Regions from separate parts of the Homo sapiens genome. Here region 2 is linked to region 1. The links come from fine-mapping of genetic effects on gene expression. A gene starts in region 1. The other region holds a variant in brackets. All regions are shown on one strand. Distances are between the middles of the regions. Region 1 holds the start of RASSF6 (Ras association domain family member 6). Region 2 has its middle 41 kb from the start of UMLILO.

What was found.
Region 2: its variant is fine-mapped to the expression of RASSF6 in nasal epithelium (TOPMed, PIP 0.91).

The regions. Positions count from the first base shown.
Region 1 is chr4:73,615,814-73,627,676 of GRCh38, forward strand. RASSF6 (Ras association domain family member 6) reads right to left here and starts at 4,623. Exons shown (of 11, transcript NM_177532.5): 1 at 4,475-4,623. RefSeq lists enhancers at 4,097-4,646, 4,647-5,195.
Region 2 is chr4:73,663,832-73,675,694 of GRCh38, forward strand. No RefSeq gene overlaps it. Among named protein-coding and RNA genes, the nearest start is that of UMLILO, 41 kb to the right of the region's middle. The variant T/C (reference allele first, on the strand shown) is at 5,886.

The DNA of each region.
Region 1 (11,863 bases):
GTTCCAGCAATGCTGGAACGTGGTTCACCTCCCCCTGCTCTGCATTCCTGCCTAGAGGTGGGCTTGCCTGGACTTACCAGTTGCCTTGTGACCAGAATGAGGCCAGAGGACAGGAAGTGAATTCTAGTACAAATTAAATCAAATGGGTCAGTCATTTAAAGTAACTTCCTGTTATCCAACCATGAGTTAATTAAATGGTTACATATCTAAAAGTGGAAAATTGGGTTCACTCGTTTGTAAATTCAACAAATATTTCACGAGTTCCTTCTCTGCACCTGCTACCGTGCTAGGCACAGAAAGTATAGCCTGTATCTATATCTATAGCCTCTTATTTCTGAGGCCACAAGGTGCACAAAGTGTCATAATGCTAATGATTTTACAAAGAACTAATATATATACATATATCTATATCTATCTATCTATCTATCTATCTATCTATCTATCTATCTATCTATACATATATATACAGGTGCTAACTTCCCTGTATTTCCCAGCCAAAGACAATTTCTCTTGCTTCTGAAATTTCACAGGAAATTTTCTGTAGCTTTCTAATTACTTACTGCTTTCTCTCTCTAACCATATTTTATTTTACTTAATTTGATTACTAGGTCCTTTAGGACAGAATTATTGCTATTTCATTTTTGTGTCTTCTAAAGTGAGTGAATATATGCAGGCATATAGATAAAACATACACAAAATATTGAATACATCCAACATACAGAGAGGTATATTATAATATTAATGGTAAAATTAAGAGCTAAGAGATTATGTGTGATAATTATTTCTTTTTTTATTTTGTATGTACTGTCTAAATCATAGACAAGGAATATATGTTACATCTCTCTCACCCACGTCCCCAGTAAAAGCTACTTAAAAAAAGAACAGAAAGTATCACACTAGAATAGCAAGTGTGTATTTCAATTATGAGATAAGAGTATGTTAAGGGCTGTACACACGGAGAGTCTTTTTAATAAAATATTGTTTCAGCTTGAAGAAGCAATAGAAAGTTACAATTATGTATTCATCTCCAAAACGAAACTGTTTTCTCAAAGTTATGACCTGGAACCTTGGAGTAGAGAAGAGCAGAGTTATATGCAATTACATCACTTCAAGAAAATGAGACAAAGCATCTATAATTCCATCCAGTATCTAGTTCTCTCAAAAAAGGAAAAGAGTTAACAGAGTGATGGTTTCTGGGAAACATTTGGCTCCATACTTTTTCTTAAAATGTGCTTTATTTGCAGAGACAGTAAAGGTCAAGAGTTGGCATATATACAAACTATCACTTAATTAAGTAATATTGGTTGCAGTCAGTGATTGTTGGTTTTGAGATAGAAATAATGTATTATAATCATTGAATCTAAGAGAGGACTAAGCAGAATATGAATCAAACACACTTCTATGTGAGCATGCCACTGCCCTCAGTTCAAGTGGAATCTAATTGGAAATGCCAAAACTTTACTGTTCTATTGCATATTTACATGGTACTAATGCCATGCATTTTATTCTGCTCAAGGTGCCCTCAGGGAGATAAAGAAAGCAGAAACGGTCAGAGAAGCAAATTTGTATTAAGGCACTTAAGGCATCTTGCCACCACTGGGTCTGGGAGGCGCTGCTCAGTCTGCCGACAGCATCTTCTGGAATTACTGGTGTGGTGGAACTCAAAAATTTTCTGCTTCACCTGAGCTTCCCAGTAGAAATTCTTAGGCTGACGTCACAAAGATCACGACTCATTTTTCCTGTTTGTATATTTGCTGCAAAAGAATCGACACTCTCTCCTCTTAAGCTCCTTTACTAGGCTCTAGGTGATGATGAAGTTTTCCTTTAAGTTAACATCCTTATTACTTAAATAGGAGACACTTCATGTTCTACTCCTGAAAGCAGTGGTATTAGTTAAGTTTGGTTGTTGAGATTATGTTATGAAAGTGATGAAATCACTATAATTTATCATTTTAAACATACAAATTAATTTTTGCAACAGAATAACTCTCTAACTGTAATGTGAAAGGAAAATATTCAGAATTCCTTTCTCAGAGGTTTTGTTTTCAAATGGCCTATACTTGAATATTTTAAAAATCTAAGCTTTTATATGAAGCCCATGTAACTCTAGTAACCGTGAATTCCCCACCTACATTGCAATCAATGAATCTATATAAGCAAATGGACTGTCAGCATTGGGTTTCTATCTCAGTTAAAAGTAAAGGATCCTTCTTATTTTAGGAAATTAAAACAAGAATCAGGTATAGAACTTTTAATTACATGCTTAAAAGACTTGTTACATACATGTTACACTATTTTGAATATAACTGGAAAAGTTAATTTTTTCGTAATCATTGCTGGGTCTCTCTGTGTCACTCTTTTCTCTCTTTCTCTCTCTCTCTGATTGACCACAACATTTAATAGTTTATAATAAAATGTTATACACGTGAGAAATAGTAGAATAAATGTAAATTCAACACAATATTCTAATGTATAGATATAAAGTTGTTATCTATCTATCTATCTATCTAAACAGATTTTAACTAGAAAGACTTCCACCCAGTTACGGTTAAGTAGATTAATCTCAAATCAATTTCAAATATGGTTAAATAAATTTATCTCAATTGGGGCTACTATTCTTTATTTAGACATATGTCTATCAATAAATATAAAGGCAAATAACTTTGTTTAAGGATGTATAACAATATGGAAATTCAGCATAAAAGCATATTTCCTCTTTGAAAAATCTTTAATGAATATTGGAACCCTAACTTATTCTAATTCAATTTGATTCCTTTATAAGTTTTTAGCTAAACTGTACTAAACACAATCAGACCCCAGAGGGAAATAACATAGTAAACTTCAGTTAGGTTGGGTTTAGAATTCTATCCACAATTCTCCAGTCAATATCTAATTGTAAGCACACTGAAGAATTTCAACTCTGCAATTTGAAAAAAGAATCCATTAAAACACCAATGATATTAAGTTAGAGTATACTGCAAACTCTTTGACTGCTTTATTTAATAAAATAACAAGATAAAAATGAAGTCAATGGAAATTACTAGTCATAGACACTAAGTTGGTCCCCTCAAGAAAATTAGCAACATTAATAACTAACAACATTGACAAAAGTGCCCTTTAAGTGAAACTTCATAAAATAAAGCCACTTTCCTGTAATTTAAGCTTAAGAGGTAGAGACTGACAAAATACAAGTATTATTCCTTCATGTCTCTTGTCCATCAACACAAATTAAAAACAGCACTTCAATACAAACAATTCAATATGTGCTGAAATATAAAGACATGGATTATATGGTCTAAATTGATGAAAGTTATTCAAAAGCAGTCTCCTTTATAAAACCCAAATGGCATGAATTCCACAATATGAGATTGTGTGTAACTCTCTTACTCTAAAATTCTATTTTCTTTTTAGGAATAACAGATTAATGTAAATGTGAATTTTTCAAAAGAAAACTGATTGAGTAGCAAATATGTCTGAATTTGCCACCACATACTCTATCTGAAAAATGGAAAGAAGCCAGGTCATTTCGTTGCTACCCAGAGAGATGATCCTAGCACACCTGTCACCTGCTTGCCTGTCCTGGATCCAGTCTCCGGGAACCAGTTCAATTCCAGCATCCTAATACACACTGTCTGGTCTCCCTAGTTCAGCTTGCCCTCCCTGATAACGGCCCCTTTGGCAGAGCAGCTTATTCTTAATGCTAACAGTAGGTATCACTTACAGAACACTTGCTGACTGTTCAGTTCCCATCAAAGAAAGCCTTATGTGGCAGATCCTTTGATGATGCTTGTTTTACAGACAAACGTTTGGGGCTTAGGTTAAGAAACTTGAGAGGGGGCAAACTAATAAGTGGCAAAGCCGAGCTTTGAACCTACCACTCTTCTGCTTCAGAATTCATATCCTTAACTCATGCACTCCCATTTAATTATTTATGTTTATTATTTCATTGTTTGGTGAGCGCTTATATTGAAAATTCATTTTTTTTTTGGTGGGGGGCATGCTTTCTGTCACTTTGCAGAAACAAATAAAAGTTGAGCTGAACCCTCAATTAAGTTCTTTCCAGTGCGATGATTCAACACAATATTCTAACCATAAGGATACTCAGAGGAAGGAGTATGCCATCCAGAAGTCTAGTATCTTTGTAAGGCACGATTTTTGCCAGGCACAATTACAGGTGAAGGGCTCATTGAACTAAAGGGAGGAGGGGTCCTATGGTCACATTTACCTCCAAGCCCTTCTCTGCACCCTTTCCCTCCCTTCTTTCCCCTCTCTCCCTCCCACCCTACAAGCTTACCTTGGTTAGGAAAGCATATTCTGAGAAAATCAAAAGGAAAAGGCATGTGTGCGATTCAGGCTGCTATGACACACACACACTTAACTTTGTTGCCTATGGATTCTGCTTTCTAATAACTTGCCCTCAACATGACCCCAGGGAGTGGATTAGAAAGTTTTTTTCCCCATCCCCATTTTTTACCTGTTATTCACACTGTGAGCAGGAGGACCCTTTTCACCATCGTTGTTCGGCTGAACTTGCTTCGCGGTTTGTTCTCGGCTGGGTCAGGAACTCTGGTAGAGGGAAACCAGTGCCCTGTCTCTGCCGGGCTGGGACTCCGCGAGTCACTCACCTGTAGGGGAGGTCCGAGGCCCGCGCGGGCGCAGGGGCGGCGCCTGTCTCCTCCCAGAGCATGGCTCAGCTGGGCGCTTGCAGTGCCCCCGACGCGATCAGCGATCCTGGAGCCCCAGGAGCTGTTAATTATTTCTCCTTTTCGCCACAGCAGGGAAGTGTCAAGAAACCTGAGCCACTCCCTGTGCCTCAGTGCATGTTGGGAGTGTTTACTTTCTTAGGAACAGCTGATAGGTACACTCCTTTGCTCTCTGCCACACTTCTTGAGAAATGAATGGACATTCTAGTTAACGCTTTAACCACGGGATTTGACTGATGTTAATCTCTATTCTCTAGTCCACCCAGACTGTAGGTAATTGGCCTGTGAGAAATGACACCAACCAAGACTGAACGCCATTATTCACGTCTTTCTTTTTAAGATTTTTCTTTTCCAATTTGAGATTTGTTAACTTTCTTTTCCTTGTTATTTTGCTAACACATTTCCCTGCTAGCACTTTTTTTCACCCAGAGCAGCGTTTCGCGCTTCAGGGTGCACCAGGACCACCTATGTATTCTGCTAAACCCAGGTACCATCAACTGTGAGACTCTGATTTAGTAGGCCATGCATACACTTCGGGTATTTATATTTTTTATAAGCTCCACAGAAGAAACTGGTAGACATCAAAGTTTGAAAATGAACATAATGAAACAAAACAGAGGAGATAAATAATAATTTAGTCATTATCTACTGAATTGGATTTGGGGGCTTTGTTTTATCCAATATCTCCAATTTCAAAAGGACACCAAAAAGGCTTAGAAACTGTTAAATGACAGATGCTGTGGAAATATGAAGTACATTTACACACACACACACACACACACACACACAGATTTTTAAGGATCATTGTTATTTTACTGGTTTCCTATGTAAAGCAACTATTCATAATTTTTAAACATAATAGGTTATTTTACAAGTGTAAACCTGAGAGCCCTCAAAAGAAATTCAATCTGATTCCTGCAAAAAGTTCAGCAGGCAGAGTTAATTTCTAGTATCTTTCGTGTTCAAACGCCAGACAAACAGAATGACTCTAGATGTTCAGGTTGCATGTTTGTCATAGCACTTTAAGTAAGATCCTATATGTTCAAAAGGTGAGGCAGGCCAGGTGCAGTGACTCACGCCTGTAATCTCAGCACTTTGGGAGACCAAGGCTGGTGGATCACTTGAGCCCAGGAGTTCAAGACCAGCCTGGACAACATGGCAAAACCCTGTCTCTGCAAAAAAAAAAAAAAAAATTAGCCCGGCATTGTGGGGCATGCCTATAGTCCCAGCTACTCGGGAGGCTGAGGTGGGAGGATCACTTGAGCCTGGGAAGTCGAGGCTGCAGAGAGCCAAGATTGCACCACTGCACTCCAGCCTGATTCAAAAAAAAAAAAGAAAAAATATTAGGCAGTTTATCTATTTAATCTGTGGTGTGCGGAGACCAGGAACTATCAGATTTATCATTATTTGAGCAAATGGTTTTATTGGATCACAATCAAAGATTTTACAATCTTATGTAAGGACAGATGTGACTTAGTATTACTTGCAGATATTAATTCGATCATCATGTTGGCTCCATAACTCTCTGGTATGTGGCTGCTGGTATGGACTGACCTTTGAATGATGACTAGCAGGACCTAGAGTAGTTACAGCTCTCGGTTCCAGGATATCTTGCTCAAATCCATGCTCCACCTCCATTGTCTGTGCTTGAAGTGGGTCATTTGCTTATTGTCAGCATCAGGGCAACATTCTTTTGCATCTTTTACCTGCAAGCATTGGATTTGGGGGCTTTGTTTTTTGCCAATATCTCCAATTTCAAAAGGACTCCAAAAAGGCTTAGAAACTGTTAAATGGCAGATGCTGTGGAAACTTTTACTCTGATGACTGCTTTCCAACTGGTTTTCTAAAGAAAAGTAAAGTTAGAGGCTTAGTGACTTCGTTTTTTAGTGTTTTATCTGTTTGTAAATATGTAATTTTTATTTGATAATATAAAAAGTATATAATTGCACATATGCAATGTGGAAAATCTGAAAAACACAGAAATGTAGAGGACAAAAAGCACCTATAATTCCATCTCTCAAGTATAATCATCATAAACAATTTGTTGAATGTCTTTATTGACTTATTTTCCCTGTGGCTGTTTATCAAAATGCTATTACATTTGGTTTGTTGGTTTATAGCCTGCTTTCATCACATCAAACGTAGTATGAACAATTTACTATAAATCAGTCACTTTTTTTCCTGCAATGTAATTTTAACTAGCTGCTCTGTATTGCACCAAATGAAAATACCGTTACTTATTTAATTATTATGATAAAGTTATACTGTTATAAACAACACTGCAGTGAATGATTACATATGATTCCACACAAGCATGACTACACCTTTTAGATACATTTCAAAAATTGAAGTTACCAGATGTAAGGCAATGTGCATTTTGAAGAATTTCCCTGCTTAAAAAATCTTTGTCAGTTTTATACTCCCAGGGCAGCTAACATGGGTTATTATACTTCTTTTAAACATTTATTAATTTGAAACATAAAAAAATCCATATCTTATTTTAAATATATATATTATCGTACTTGTAAGTTTGGGCTCTTTAGACTTTGCACTTTTGCTTTATTGTTTATTGGACTCTTTGCTCATCTTTTTTCTTATTGATTTATAAATTCTCTTTATATATTAAACATATCAACTCTTCATCATATATGCTGTGACTATATTTTCAAGGTGACTTGTTTACCTTGCAGTCTTGTCTATGGTATTTTTGACATATAAAAGTTTAAAAATGTAAATGGTCGAATCTATTATTTTTCTTTATCAGTTACATCAGTTTTATAAAAGCTTTCCCATCCTTAAAGAATGTAAAAATGCACATATATTGCTTCTTCTAGTTTTTCTAAGATTTAGATATTATTTATTTATTAAATTGAACATTTTAGCCCATCTAGACTTTATTATGTTAATACACCATGAAATTTAGATCTAACTTAATTTTTCTAAGTTATTAGTTTGTTAACTGAGTCATGTTTATTAAATAACTATAGATTATAAAATTTATGAAGGCAAGGACCTTCATAAATTCATAATGTCTTATCCTCTATTTTAACCACTAAGCTTAGCACAGTGACTGGCAGGCCCATGGTTGCTCAGATCAAATGTTTAACTAGCACTCTTGATTTCTTTCTTTCCCTCTTTCCACGCCCAGTAAATGAGCAAGTCCTGATGTTGTATCTCCATGGCTACCACCTTACATCAGGCCAGCATCATCTCTTGCTTGGATACCACAAATGACCTCCGAACTGGGCTTTATGCCTCCCCTCTTATCCTACTACAGTCCATTCTCCACCTGTGGCTAGCGTAATCTTTTATAAGCAATATCCAGACAACAATACCACTTCTGATTTTCTTGGTTTAAAGGCTTTCTAGTGGTTGCACCGCACATCTGGAATAAAATCTAAATCTGAACTGCTTACCATGCCCTACAATGCCCCACATGACTGGCTCATCCCTGCTTCTTCGACCTTTTTGATTTTCTGCTTCCTTGGTACTAACTCTAAACTTGCTACCCTGGTTAATTTTTATTTCTGGAACAGACTAAACTTCTTCCTGTCTCACTGCGTTTGTATTTATTATTGATTCACTCAAGAAAGCTTTGCTCTGGTCATGGGTAGTTTCTTTTCATTACTATGTTTTTTTCCTCAAATATTACCTCCTTAGAAAAGCTTCCTATGACGACTGTATTCGAAGAAGACTTCTGATCTTTCTCTATTATAGCACCTTGTTTTATTGTATTTGTGGCAATTATCATTAGCTAATTATGTTTTATTGTTTGGGGTTACCTCTTTATTTTATGTCTCCTGTCATTAAAATATAAACGCTAAGAGATCAGGAACCTTGACTTGTAGGTTCACTCCTCTATGCTTAGTGTCTAGAACAATGTGTGGTCCCCTGAGGGTCAAGAAACACTGGGTCAAGAAAAAATAGTAACAATAAATAAGCGTTGAGTAAATAAATGTAGATCACACTCTTTCTTGATATGAAATGACACTTTTATCAAATACTGAGGGCATACATATTTTTTGCCTTACACTTCATTTCATATCTGAGGCTGTACTTAAAGAATATGTGCTAGGGAAGGAAAAAAGGAAGCAGAGGCAGTGTAGTTCCAAACAATGAGGGGACTCCCAGTAAAAACCTAGCTGGAAAATTGCCTTAAAGAGGAAGCCAGGCCTTCACAAGGAGGCAATGTGTTAATTACATTTCCGATGTGTAAAGCTTAAAATAAATATATTTTACAACTGGAAATTTTTGCCATAAAGATTTTAATAAATTACAGCAACCGTAACAGATTAAGATTTTTGGAAAATCCCAACATTTAACTTGAACTTGAAGAATAAACCGTCACTTCCTGTTTCAATTGAGGAACATATACTGCTTTTCTGTGAAAACAGACAAGAAATTTAATTAAAAAAAAAAAACTTTGTTGAGAAAAATAAGGGAGGAGAAATTTCCTTTAAAAATATACACAGAACTTTAATTAAAACAGTGCTGTAATTGATGTACAAATCATTTTAAAACTTTTAGATAGTTGATGAATTTTTAAAAAGCCTCACCTTTCCATAGTTATGTATCATAAGATTCAACAGTGACTTTTGAGTAAGGCCATGATTTGTCATGATGATGGGGACAAGTGCAACACAACCATTTTCGCAACTTGAACAATGAAGATTATTTTCATTAATTAATGAAATTAATTTTTATTTCCAAAGCTTTTTCTTCTCTAAGAAAGTTTCTTGTCTGAGAAGCTCTAAGAAACAGTTTCTTATCTTCAATATAGACTGTTTTTCAATAACCTAATGGATAGTGGAAATAATCTAGTTTAGTCATTCCTTGAAAAATTAATCTTTTCCAAGCAGATGCAGAGATGGTACAAAGACAAATAAGACAAAATCTCCTCTCTCAAGGAGCTGACAATCTTCAACCTCAAGAGAAGAAATTTAAAAGCATACATACTTTCAAAATTCAGTGACAGAAAGAAACCCAGATTGTAATGATGTTTTGATAGGCTTTAACAGGTACAAAGAGAAATAATTTTTTTTTTAATGTGAAGAATCATTTTCAAAAAAATGAAATGGGCAGTAATAATTTTCCCACCCCCAAAGTTACTGCCTTTTAAAATTGGTTATTGTATATAAAACATAAAGAAATCCAGTGAAATGTAACAGTGATTGCTGTTTTTCAAAATATGGCACTTAATCAATTTTGATTTTTTAAACTTTGTTGATTTTCTTATTGCATATTTGATTTCTGTTTTCAAAAATTACATTTTATTGTGTATATTTGAGGTTTACCAACATGATGTTGGGAAGCATACGGATAGTAAAATAGTTACTATGGTTAACAAACCTACACAGTGACTTTTTTGGTGATAAGAGCAGCTAAAATCTACTTATTTAACAAAAATTCCAAATATAATAAAATTTTATTAACTATGGTCCTCATGTTGTTCATTAGATCTCTAGACCCATTCATCATACATATCTACTACTTTGTATTCTTTGACCTACATCTTCCCGTTCCCTCTGCCCTGCCCTTCCTGTCCCTGGCAACTACTGTTTTATTCTCTTTGTATTTTGACCTTACTTTTTTCCTTTTTAGATTCTATATATAAGTGAGATCGTGAGATTATGCAAATTTTTCCATCTGTGTCTGGCTTATTTCACTTAGCATAAGGTCCTCCAGGTACTTCCATGTGGATAAAAGTGTCAGGATATACTTTTTTCAGGCTGAATAATATTCATACACACACAAGTATACATATAACATTTTTTCTGTCCATTCATGTATTGATGGACAATTAGGAATTAGATTGTTTCTATATCTTGGCTATAATGAATAATTCTGCCTTGAACGTGGGAGTACAGATATCTTTATGGAGTGGTGATTTCATCTTATTTGGTTATATACCCAGAAGGGGAATTGCTGGGTCATATGGTAATTCTATTTTTAATTTCTTTAAGAATCCCCATTCTGCTTTTCATAATGGCAGTACTAATCTGTATTCCTATCAACAGTGTAGTAGGCTTTCCTTTTCTTGACACCCTTACCAACATTTGCCATCTCTTGTCTTTTTGGTAATAGGCGTCCTTATGAGTGTAAGGTAATATCTCATAGCGGTTTTAATTTGCATTTCCCTGATGATTAGTGACAGTGAGCAACTTTTCATATACCTGTTGGCCATTTTTATGTCTTATTTGGAGAAATGTCTATTCAGGTCTCTGACCCATTTTTTTAATTGGGTTGTTTTTCAGCTATTAATTATAAGAGTTCTTTATAATATTAATCTGTTATCAAACATATAGTTGACAAACATTTTTTCTCAATCCATAGGTTTCCTTTTCAGTTTGTTGATTTGTTTCCTTCACTTTGTTTAATACAATTCCATTTATTTATTTTTGCTTTTGTAGCCCGGGATTTTGGTGTGACGCACAAAAACTCATTGCCAAGGCCAATGACAAGGAGATTTCCCCCTGTTTTCTTCTAAAAGTGTTATGGTTTCAGGTCTTACATTTAGGTGTTTTATCCATTTTGAGTTGATTTTTGTGTATGGTGTAAGATAAGGGTCCAATTTCATTTTGTGTGTGTGTGTGTGTGGAAACCCAGTTTTCCCAGCGCCATTAATTGAAGAGACTATTCTTTCCCCATTGTGTTCTCTTGGTGCCCTTATCAAAAATTAGCTGACTTCATATGTTTGGATTTATTTCTGGGTTCCATATGCTGATCTATGTGTTTCTGTTTCCATGCTAGTACCACACTGTTTTGAATATTATAACTCTGTAATATAAATTTAAATCAGGAAATATCTAGCTTCCAATTTTTTTTTGTCTCAGTATTGATTTGGCTATTCAGGATTCTTTGAGGTTCTATACAAATTTTAGAATTTTATTTTTTCTATGAAGAAGGCCGTTGGAATTTTGATAGGGAATGCGTTAAATCTGTATATTGCATTGGGTAGTACAGACATTTTAATAATGCTAATTCTTTTCATCCATGAACATGACATATCCTTCCATTTATTTGTGTGTTTTTCAATTTCTTTCATCAATATTTTATGGTTTTTAGTGTACAAATCTTTCACTTCCTTGGTTAAATTTATTCCTATGTATTTTTTTTGATGCTATTGCTTACAGTATTTTTAAAAATTTCTTTTTCAGCTA
Region 2 (11,863 bases), 48 kb after region 1:
ACTTGGTGGTTTTGAAATGTGATTTGTGTTTTTAAGGGAAGCAGTTAGGGCAGAGTAAAGAACTTCAGCTTTGGAGACAAGAAGACCTGTACTCAAGTCCTGACAGCACTGTTTATCAGATGTGTCACCTTGGAAATCCCTTGACATCTCTGAGCCTCAGTTTCCAAATCTGTGAAAGAGAGATAATAACACTATCTTTGTAGAGCTTATGGGATGATTAGAAATAATGGGCATGGTTGTCTAGTACAGTGTATGGGAAATATTAAGAGTGCAAAATAATTCTTATTTATAAAAATTTATTGTACATGTACATTTTGTAAGGAAAGATCTGTTATATAATGCAAACCACTCAGATTTCCATGACCTGTTGTCGAGTGTCCTACACCCGATCATAAAAAATTCTCCTCTTACAGGGTCTCATGGCTTCAAGTCTAAAACAGAAATTTACATACATCCTAGTGCCACTGAGGAGAGCAAATAAACAGAAACTGCCATTATCAGTCCACTAAATCTGTAGTTCTCAATCTTGGCTGCACATTGTAATCACTTAAGAAAGCTTAAAAATCCTCAGTGCCCCAACTATACTCCTGAAAAATTAAATCAGAAGTTCTGGGATTGGACCCAAGTATCAGTGCTTATTTAAAGTTCTGCAGAAAATTCAAAGTGATGCCAAGGTGGAGAACCATTGTTTTAAACCATTGCTTCTCACGCTGTAATGTGTGCTGGAATCACCTTGGGGTCTTGTGGACTTGCACATTCTGGTCCTGGGAGGTCTGAAGTGGGGCCTGAGATCCTGCATTCCCAACATTAGGCAATGCTGATGCTGCCAGTTCCTGGACAGCAGCCTTGAGTGGGGCTCTGTTTGGGGTTCTCACTCATCCTATTATGCTTATTTCTTCCTTTCTGTGCCTCCTCTGCACCCTCCAACTCCTCTCCCACACAACCATCCAGTTTTGGGGAAAAGCCTTTCATAAGAGATACTTCTCTTCCCAGGAATTACTTTTTCTGCTGAGACAGGCCCCAGTAATTTTTATTCATGAGAGTAGAATGTTATTCCTTTCCCCTGGAGTGTTTCAAATTGCTCTACTTTTCTTAAAGTGATTTTGATTTATGAGAAATGTATGCTTCTGTTTTCAGTACAAAATGATCATAATTTCATCAGAAAAAGGGAGTTGTTAAAGTATTTGACATAACTCTAACACCTCCAGAAGTTTATTTGACTGCTCTGGAAAGTTTTTAAAGACAATCATTTTGCACAACCAAAAATCAAGAAGGATACTGGTAGTGTTTGTTTAGATTCAAAACGATCAAGAATTGTTGATCCTTCTGATATTTGGATTTGAATCCCTAAAGCAGCTTTAAACCAAACTGTCTGTTTGGATCATTTGGCTAAACTTCACTGGTCAGAATATTACTTGCTGCTCTACATCTGACCTTGACTTAGGGCATAGGAAGCAGAAACTCCGGGACAAATCTGGGACTTGCCCAGTGTATGTTATAGAAATATTCACTTTAGTGGTCTGCAGAGACACCCTTCAAAGAACATAGCCAGGATATTAAATATCCATTTCTTACTTTCTTAGTTTTTTAATTCATTAGAGCTGGAACAGAAGACCAAGAGAATTGTAGGGACCAGCCCCACAGGGTCGGTGGGTTTTTCTCCCCATGTGTGGAGATGAGAGATTGTAGAAATAAAGACACAAGACAAAGAGATAAAAGAAAAGGCAGCTGGGCCCAGGGCACCACTACCACCAAGACATGGAGACCGGTAGTGGCCCCAAATGCCAGGCTGTGCTGATATTTATTGGATACAAGACATAGGGGTAGGGTAAGGAGTGTGAGCCATCTCCAATGATAGGTAAGGTCACGTGGGTCACGTGTCCACTGGACAGGGGGCCCTTCCCTGTTTGGCAGCTGAGGCGGAGAGAGGAGACAGCTTACACCATTATTTCTGCATATCAGAGACTTTTAGTACTTTAACCAATTTTGCTACTGCTATCTAAAAGGCAGAGCCAGGTGCACAGGATGGAACATGACAGCAGACTAGGAGCATGACCACTGAAGCACAGCATCACAGGGAGACAGGCCTCCGGATAACTGTGGGTGGGCCTGACTGATGTCAGGCCCTCCTCAAGAGGTGGAGAAGTAGAGTCTTCTCTAAACTCCCCCAGGGAAAGGGAGACTCCCTTTCCTGGTCTGCTAAGTAGCGGGTGTTTTTCCTTGGCACTGACGCTACCACTAGACCATGGTCCACTTGGCAACAGGCGTCTTCCCAGATGCTGGCGTTACCGCTAGACCAAGGAGCCCTCTAGTGGCCCTGTCTGGACTTGACAGAGGGCTCACACTCTTGTCTTCTGGTCACTTCTCACCATGTCTCCTCAGCTCCTATCTCTGTATGGCCTGGCTTTTCCTAGGTTATGATTGTAGAGCGAGGATTATTATAATATTGGAATAAAGCGTAATTGCTACAAACTAATGATTAATGATATTCATGTATAATCATGTCTATGATCTAGATCTAGTATAACTCTTGTTGTTTTATATATTTTATTATATTGGAACAGCTCGTGCCCTCGGTCTCTTGCCTTGGCACCTGATTGGCTTGCCACCCACATCTGCCCCCTTTTTATTAACTAGGATCGCCATCACCATCATTGCTTGTCGTTGACTTTGGACTTGTTTCCGGACTCCTTGGAGGCATCTGCAGACTAAAAGAGACAACATAAGCATACCAGTATTAATAATGCCAGTGACAACAATGATTCTCCAAGGGGTTTGATCCATTTAAAGGGATTAAGATCAGATAATTCTTTAGTTATTCCTTCAAAAATGTCTGAGCCAGGAACAGTGGATAAATGAGCCTGTGAAGCCTCAAAAATTTGTTCTTTAAGTTTTGAAATATCCAAGGTTAAGTTATCATCCCAGGCTTTTAAATGTCTTGAGAACTTTTCCCAGCTATGCTGATCTTTATTATAAGCATAAGGCATTATGCAGTAATCAGAAGTATTCCAATCACACTGTAATTGCATACGGTGTTCCAAATTCATAACTCTATTTCCCAATCATATCACACGTTGGCAGAGATCATTAATTTGATTAGCTAATTTTTGATCAATTTGAGCCTTAGAATTCCAAAGTCTGGAGGAGTTTTTTTGCCATGCTTCAACACATTGAGTGGTTTGAACGGAATTGTGAATCATAACTCCAGCAGTTGCCACTGTTGCAGTAACCGCAATTAGACCTGCAATGACTGCAATAAGAGTAAAAATAAATCTCTTTGTTCTTTTGAGGATACCTTTAAGAACTTCATTGACTATGTATATAGAGGGGGAAGACTCCCACGGATGATGTAAAGAAACTGGTATCCATACCCCCTCCCTAGCACTTACCAAGAGAATACTTGTTGTGGGATTAAAAGTAGCATCAATGCACGTGAACAGCTTACAATTATCACATTCTATAGTTTGTGTACTGGGAATGATAATTATATTTCTAACTAACAGCAGGTGAGTGGTTTTGACACAACTCCTGATGGGTATTACCTGTTTAGATATCAAGGTGATGTTGAATGTGGGTGTTTTGGTATTAGTGTGAAGGAGTTGATAAGTAGTGTTCCATATCCTTATTCCTGTTATAGCTGCAGCTAATTTCCATAATTCAGGATGTTCTGGGGTAACAATGGGATGAATCATTTTTGGTCTAGGAGGAACAATGCCTGCGTCCATCCATTTAAATGGGTAAGGAGACACCTATTGTCTCAACCTGTATGACTGCCATCCATCCTTTATATAATCTAACAAATAATTATACTCCGAGCATGAGGTATTTTTGCTGGAGCAATCCTGCGAATAATGCTCTTTTGGAGCCCAATCAATAACAGTTCCCATGGCTAGACTTTGCAGCACAATGGCCTTGGGAGCATTACAATCATTCCATAAAATTGAATTCAGTAGAAAAGTTCCCTTTGTAGGTTTCTTTGGGCAGTCTGGCAGTCCTTTTGTTTTATTGCTGTTAGTAGTGACAGGAGCCCTCAATTCCTCAAGAGGCTTAAGTTTAACAGTGAGAAGTTGAAAAGAATTGCTACTGAACACATTATGTACTTGATAAGAATCATTTGTTAAGGATGGTACGGTCCACATCCAATTCTGGTAAGAATAAGCTAAACAGCCAGGTGATACACAGTGGTGGGTATTTATAGCCAAATGACAGATTAAAGTGCATACCTTCTTCTTCCGGTTGAGCTGGAAACCTATCATCATTAGGGACCGGCATGAATGCACTATTATTAGTGTAAACTTCTACTGAGGAGTCCATCCAGGAGACAGACCAAATTAAAGGGGGAAAAGGAACATATGCCCAGTGGGTATAATTTTGAGTTGCCCCAACTGGTGGTATACTTACTGCTGCACTGACTACCATAAAGACAGCCAGAATTATATTACTGGTCGTTTTTGGGATTCCTTTTTCTTTTAATAAATTTTCTGTGTGATGGGATAAGACCTTTATTTGACCCCATGTTGGTGGAGTTGAACGAGTGGTGTTGTAGGTCACACAGCGAGATTTTGTCTCAATGTCGAGGTCATGAAGTTTATGTGTCAGGAGGCGAAATTTCCTCCTCGGTTTTTGAGGGGTCTTTGCCTTTTGTTTCTGGGAACGTTTCATCTTTGGAGTTATGGTGCAATTTCAGTTGTCGGTGGGGGAGACCCACATGGGCTGTAGTCCTTTTCCTGGGGAAACACAAGCAAAACCCCTACCCCATGTTACGACTGTGCCTAATTCCTATTTGTTAGTTGCATCCTTCCACCATACCCGCATTCCTTTTTGTGGATCAAATTTACTTCCAGTGAAATGTTGTTCTGCCACTGTAAAAGGTTGATTTCTTGCTAGGTTTAAGAAATTTAGTGTAAAAGGAGCCAGATTTAACTGAGCATGAGGAGTGGCAGCATCCCTCTGTTTTAGTGTCCTGTTTTCGAAGTTGATCTTTGAGTGTTTTATTGGCTCGTTCCACCAAGGCCTGTCCTTGAGAGTTATAGGGGATGCCAGCTGTGTGAGTAATTGCCCATGTCTGAGTGAACCTTTTAAAAGCAGCACTAGTGTATCCGGGGCCGTTGTCAGTTTTCAGTTTCTCGGGACAGCCCATCACCGAGAAATATGAAAGCATATGTTGTTTAACATGAGCTGTACTTTCCCCTGTGTGACAAGTGGCCCAGATAAAATGAGAAAAGGTGTCAATAGTTACATGTATAAAAAAAGCTTGCCAAAAGCAGGATAATGAGTCACGTTCGTTTGCCAGAGAGCATTCTGTGAAAGTCCTCTAGGGTTAACTCCTGAAGAAAGTGGCTGTAAAATTAACACTTGACAAGTAGGACAGTGACGCACATGGTTTTAGCTTGTTTCCATGTAAGGGGGAACTTTTTTTGGAGTCTCGCAGCGTTGACTTGAGTTAAAGTATGAAAATTTCGTGCATTTGTAAAAATGGGAGCAACTAATATATCAGCTCTGGCATTTGCTGCCAAGAGGGGTTTGGGGAGGGGTGTGTGGGCCTGAATGCGAGTAATGTAGAAAGGAGAAGACCTTGCTTTGAGCACAGACTAAAACCTTTGAAAAAGAAAGAATAGGTTATCATTAGGCAGAAATTTGATTAAGGCAGTTTCAATATTGCGAGCAACATGTGCTACATACGCCAAGTCAGAAAGAATGTTAACTGGTTCAGGGAAATCTTCAAGGACAGCCATAACAGCAAGTAGCTCAGCTCATTGTGCTGAAATAGCTCCTGTATTAAGAACACGTTCTCTTGGTCCTGTATATGCTGCTCGGCCATTACAGGAAGCATCAGTAAAAACAGTGACAGCTTCAGCCAATGGGGTGTTTCTAGTAATGTTAGG[T/C]AAAATCCAAGAAGTGAGGAAGGAACTGAAATAATTTTACATTAGGATAGTGATTATCAATTATACCCGGGAAAGTTGCCAAATGTACTTGCCAAGCGATGCAGGTTGCAAAAGCCTGTTGGACTTGTAATCGGGTGAGGGGAACAATGATTTTTTTTGGTGGGGGGGGGGCGCTTAATAACCTTGTCTTCTAGCTGCATTCCTAAATAGTGATAAGGAGAAGAAGTTTGGATTTTTTCTGGGGCAATAACTAAACCGGCTGCTGCAACTGCTTTTTGTACTGCAGAAAAACAAGATATTAACACAGAGCGAGAATTTGCCGCGAGATCAGCTGCTTGCTGAGCAACATCAGCGGGCTGTAGCTGATTTTGTGCCGCAGGACGGCAGGGAGGCTGTAAAATTACAGGAAATTGCCAGGCTTTGGGATCCCCATATTCTCTTGCCTGTGCTATAGCCCTGATAAGAGGAGTGCCATTTTGAGGAATGTATGTAACTTGTTGCTTGTGAGTGGCAAACTTGGGTAGACGAGATTACTTGCTGAGCAGGTCTTTCATGGGCCTGAAATCCAGGCTGCCACCGGCAACTGTGGACCAGGCTTCAAGGGAGCCTGAGGCTTCAAGGGAACCCGGTTTGTAGAAAAGGAACCAGGCCTCAAGGTATCCTGTGACTCCAGGGGAGTCCGTGACTCTAGCCGAGTCTGATTAGGAGGAAAAGAACCAGGCTTCAAGAGAGCCTGTGACTCTAGCCGAGTCCGATTAGGAGGAAAGGAACCAGGCTTCAAGGGAGCCTGCGGCTCTAACTGAGTCTGATTAGGAGGAAAAGAAACAGGCATGAGAAAACTAGGCTGTGGAGGGATAGGGTTGAGGGCCTCATTACTGGGTAGAACAAGCAGAAGGTTGACAGCCCTACAGCAGGGCTGAACAGGGACAGGGTTGAGATAATACAGGAGGGTTTTTATAAAGTTTAAATAAGCCGAGTACCTAGTACTGGCCTGTCCCATGGTGTCCCCGGAATGCTGAGTGCTCAAGCTTACCACCAAGCTTATTGACCGCAATCCTCAGGAATCTGTCGTCGAAATCCTCTGCTGAGTCCCGCACTCAAGGTGCAACTTCACACAGCGAGGGAGAGCCCCATGTCGGAGCGCCAGATGTAGGGACCAGCCTCACAGGGTCAGCGGGCTTTTCTCCCTGTGTGCAGAGATGAGAGACTGTAGAAATAAAGACACAAGACAAAGAGATAAAATTGGAGACAGCTGGGCCTGGGGGACCACTACCACCAAGACGTGGAGTCCGGTAGTGGCCCTGAATGCCAGGCTGCACTGATATTTATTGGATACAAGACATAGGGGTAGGGTAAGGAGTGTGAGCCATCTCCAATGATAGGTAAGGTCACGTGGGTCACGTGTCCACTGGACAGGGGGCCCTTCCCTGTTTGGCAGCTGAGGCGGAGAGAGGAGACAGCTTACGCCATTATTTCTGCATATCAGAGACTTTTAGTACTTTCACTGATTTTGCTACTGCTATCTAAAAGGCAGAGCCAGGTGTACAGGATGGAACATGAAAGCGGACTAGGAGCATGACCACTGAAGCACAGCATCACAGGGAGACAGTTAGGCCTCTGGATAACTGTGGGTGGGCCTGACGATGTCAGGCCCTCCACAAGAGGTGGAGAAGTAGAGTCTTCTCTAAATTCTCCCAGGGAAAGGGAGACTCCCTTTCCTGGTCTGCTAAGTAGCGGGTGTTTTTCCTTGGCACTGACGCTACCACTAGACCATGGTCTGCTTGGCAACAGGCGTCTTCCCAGATGCTGGCATTACCGCTAGACCAAGGAGCCCTCTAGTGGCCCTGTCTGGACTTGACAGAGGGCTCACACTCTTGTCTTCTGGTCACTTCTCACCATGTCTCCTCAGCTCCTATCTCTGTATGGCCTGGCTTTTCCTAGGTTATGATTGTAGAGCGAGGATTATTATAATATTGGAATAAAGAGTAATTGCTACAAACTAATAATTAATGATATTCATGTATAATCATGTCTATGATCTAGATGTAGTATAACTCTTGTTGTTTTATGTATTTTATTATACTGGAACAGCTCGTGCCCTCGGTCTCTTGCCTCGGCACCTGGGTGGCTTGCCGCCCACAGAGAATGGCTTTTGAGTCAGATGTATCTGGGTTTGAAATCTCAGCTCTTCCTCTTTGCTCCTTTGAGCTCGAGACATGGTATTTTTTTTGCTTATTTGCGTAAATAATTGTTTATTATGATTTCACATAAAAGGAAGTCATGAGATGGTTGGTTCTAAGAGCGGCTCAGAAACTTGACCATGTTATCGAGGCTTTTCTGATCCTATCACATTAACAATGTCATTCCTCATGGGTATAAGATGGCTGTGGTAACTCCAACCACCACACCTTCACAGGGCAAAGTCCTTAGTAGAAAGGGAACATATGTATCAGGGAAAAGAGTCCTTCCCAGGAACCTCTAATAGATTTCCCTCTCATCCACCTAGCCAGAAATAGGCCACAGGCCGACCCCTAAACCAATCACTGACAAAAGAGAGTAGGATTATCACTATGGACTTAAATCAGTCATAATTCATTCCTGAGGGGCAGAATTCACATTGTCACTAAAGAGCACATGGTCAAATTGGAATCCTTTTAGGAGGCAAAAAAACGGTAGGATAATATTGGTTTGACAACTGTCAGCCTCTATCACACCATTGATAAATGTCTTGCCTCCCTGTTCAGACTGTCTCTGAAATAGGCAATTTGACAACGGCCCTTGGGGAAGGAGCAGCAGGCTTGTTACCCCTCAGCTGTTTTTTGTTTGTTTGTTTTTGTTTTTACATGAGAATTTCTTTACCTTGCATCATCAACATTCTTTTTCTTCCAATGAGTATTTCTATTATAATTTTTTCACCATCAAAAACTTTAAAAAAGTTTTTGCCTAGCAGTTGAGAACAGTATGATCTCCATCTCTTTGTCCAAATTCTAAGGCTGAGAGAGTAAACTGTTTATTTATAAATCAGCACTCTAAGTTAACATCAAATTAAGTCTCCATCAGAGAGGAAAGAAGACAGTTTTGCTCCCCTTTAATTAAATATTGTGAACATTTGTTGCTTCCACCAACACTGTGTTACCAGTGTTTTACTGGAGGTGACTGTGTCTTACTTTATATTCCAAGAAGCTAACATGTTTTCTCACTCACAGATGTTCAAGAAAGTTTACATTGAAAATAATCTCTGTACACATAGTTTCACTCAAAGTTACTTGGCAAAGTCATAAGACAAGATTCTTGATTTGGCATTAATTAATTTTGTCTTTTTCTTTTTCTTTTTTTTTTTTTTTGGAGATGGAGTTTCGCTCGTGTCACCGAGGCGGGAGGGCAATGGCACGATCTCAGCTCACTGCAACCTCTGCCCTCTGGGTTCAAGCTATTCTCCTGCCTCAGCCTCCCAAGTAGCTGGGATTATAGGCTCCCACCACCACGTCTAGCTAATTTTTTTTGTATTTTTAGTAGAGATGGGGTTTCATCACGTTGGCCAGGCTGGACTCGAACTCCTGACCTCAGAGATCCGCTGGCCTCAGCCTCAGAAAGGGCTGGGATTACAGACGTGAGCCACCACTTCCGGCCACTTTCTAATTTTTTTTATTATTATACTTCAGGCAGTTTAGCAATGATTTTCCAGTTTGCTGTGAAAGCAACAAGTGGTGTTGGCAGTGTCAGCTCATGAACTGACATTATTTGGCATAGAGTAGGCGTAGAGATTAGTCTGTTTTCATAGCACAAAGGCCCCTATTCTTCCCAAGCTTATTGGTACACATCAGTCCCAGCGACCACGGTTGAGGAATATCAGGGATTTAGGGGCCAGCTCATCACATCTTAAACTTCAGCGATGCCCTGTGTCTGAGTCAAAGCAAGGCGTACGTGCACAGTATCCACTGTAACTTGTTTGGCTGGTTTTCATGGGTTAACCAGTTGACTTTAATGGTCAACACATTTCCCAGTTTGAAAAGTCAAAATCAATGTGTAATACTAGAATTCTTATGAAAATGAAGTATGTAAAGATATTTTGGCCAGGTGCGGTGGCTCACGCCTGTAATCCTGCACTTTGTGAGGCCAAGGTGGGTGGATCATGAGGTCAGGAGATCGAGACCATCCTGGCTAACATGGTGAAACCCCATCTCTACCAAAAACATAAAAAATTAGCTAGGCAAGGTGGTGGGCGCCTGTAGTCCCAGGTACTAGGGAGGCTGAGGCAGGAGAATGACGTGAATCCAGGACGCAGTGCTTGCAGTGAGCCGAGATCGAACCACTGCACTCCAGCCTGGGCGACAGAGCCAGACTCCATCTCAAAATAAAAAAAAAAAAGAAAAAAACACAAAAGATATTTTAGGCAAGCCTGAAGGAAGTGAAAATCAAGAATAGCTACCAATAAGGAACTTTAGAATATATATATATATATACACACACACGTATATATATATATATATACGTGTATATATATATACACGTATATATATATATACACATATATATACGTATATATATACATATATACGTGTATATATACATATATATATACACGTATATATATATACATATATATATACACGTATATATATATATACACGTATATATATATATATATATTTTTTGAAAACGGGAAGCTATGATTACCCTCAGTCTCCATCAGTCACTTGATGTAACACTGCACATTCTCTAGGGACTACCCTGGCAGGGAGAGGGTCTCGGATACATCACAGACTCTTCTGTCTTGAAACATGAACACTGCAGGCCAGTAAGGCGGGGTGTGCACCCATCAGCACCTCTGGGCTGTCCTCCTGACCTAATGTTTTCTTGGGGGAAGGCAGTTCTGTGAGGCGGGCTTGTTCTGGCAGGCTCTGGTTAGGCCAGTCAGTTTGTATCTTTCCAGTCATGCTTAATCTTGGTAGCTCTTGAAATCTTTCCTGACTGGAAGTCCAGAGCATGAACTTTCTTACCTAGGGCCCCATATTTCCAAGGAGTGGCCTTGGGCTTGAAGCTGATATTTTGAGAGTCACACTGAGTCAGAGAGTTGTGATGAGGAGCTCAGAGTTCGCAGCCACATGTTCCGGGCTTAATTCCCAGCTTTGCCTCTAGCAAGCTATGTGACCTCGGGGAGTTGCTGCATGTCCCTTTGCCTCATAGCCTCACTTTCTTTGCCATTGCCACAGGGCTGTAATAAAGATTAAATGAAAATGGTATCTGCCACATAGAAAACACTATGTAAGTAAGACTATCATCACTTGCCTCCATCCCAATTCAGACATGCTGTATATCAACTTTAGCAAATCTAGATGACAAGTAACATCAACTAAGAAGATTGCTGGGCTGCACAAGATAGGGGCTGAAAGAGGCAATATTATAGCTACTTGGTTGTGATCACTATTTTCATCAACATTTTTGTTTTAAATTTTCTTAAGTATCTTATACTTTATTTTCAAATTAAAATGTAAGATTTTGTTCTTTTAAATTCTTTATATATGTGAGGCAGAAGTGTTACATATGTGAGATAAAAAATGGACTCTTTTCAGAATTTAAAAAAAGAAATCTATCGAGAGGCAAGACTTTTCCAATACCAAAGCAAATAGCCAATCAATTTAGTCACAAGACCCCTAGTTTCAGGAGATAGAAATTCTAGGGTTGGTTTTGATTGCTTTCAGTATAATGATCTAATTACCTTATTACATAATATATCCACCTAACATCCATATGAGTTTGGGGTGGGCAACGGCATCACCGCCTCTTCTTTTAAGGAGCACTGCCTGGTAGGATTATTACCTGTGTAGCTGAAAACAGCGATTGTAGTACTGAGGAATTAACCCTAGTTAGAGATTGGGAAGACTCACAAATAGGGAATATGCAGTCAGGATTATTTTTTGACAAGTGAATTATCCAGTTGGCACTACTCAAGTAACACAAGAGTTTCTGATGGTTGG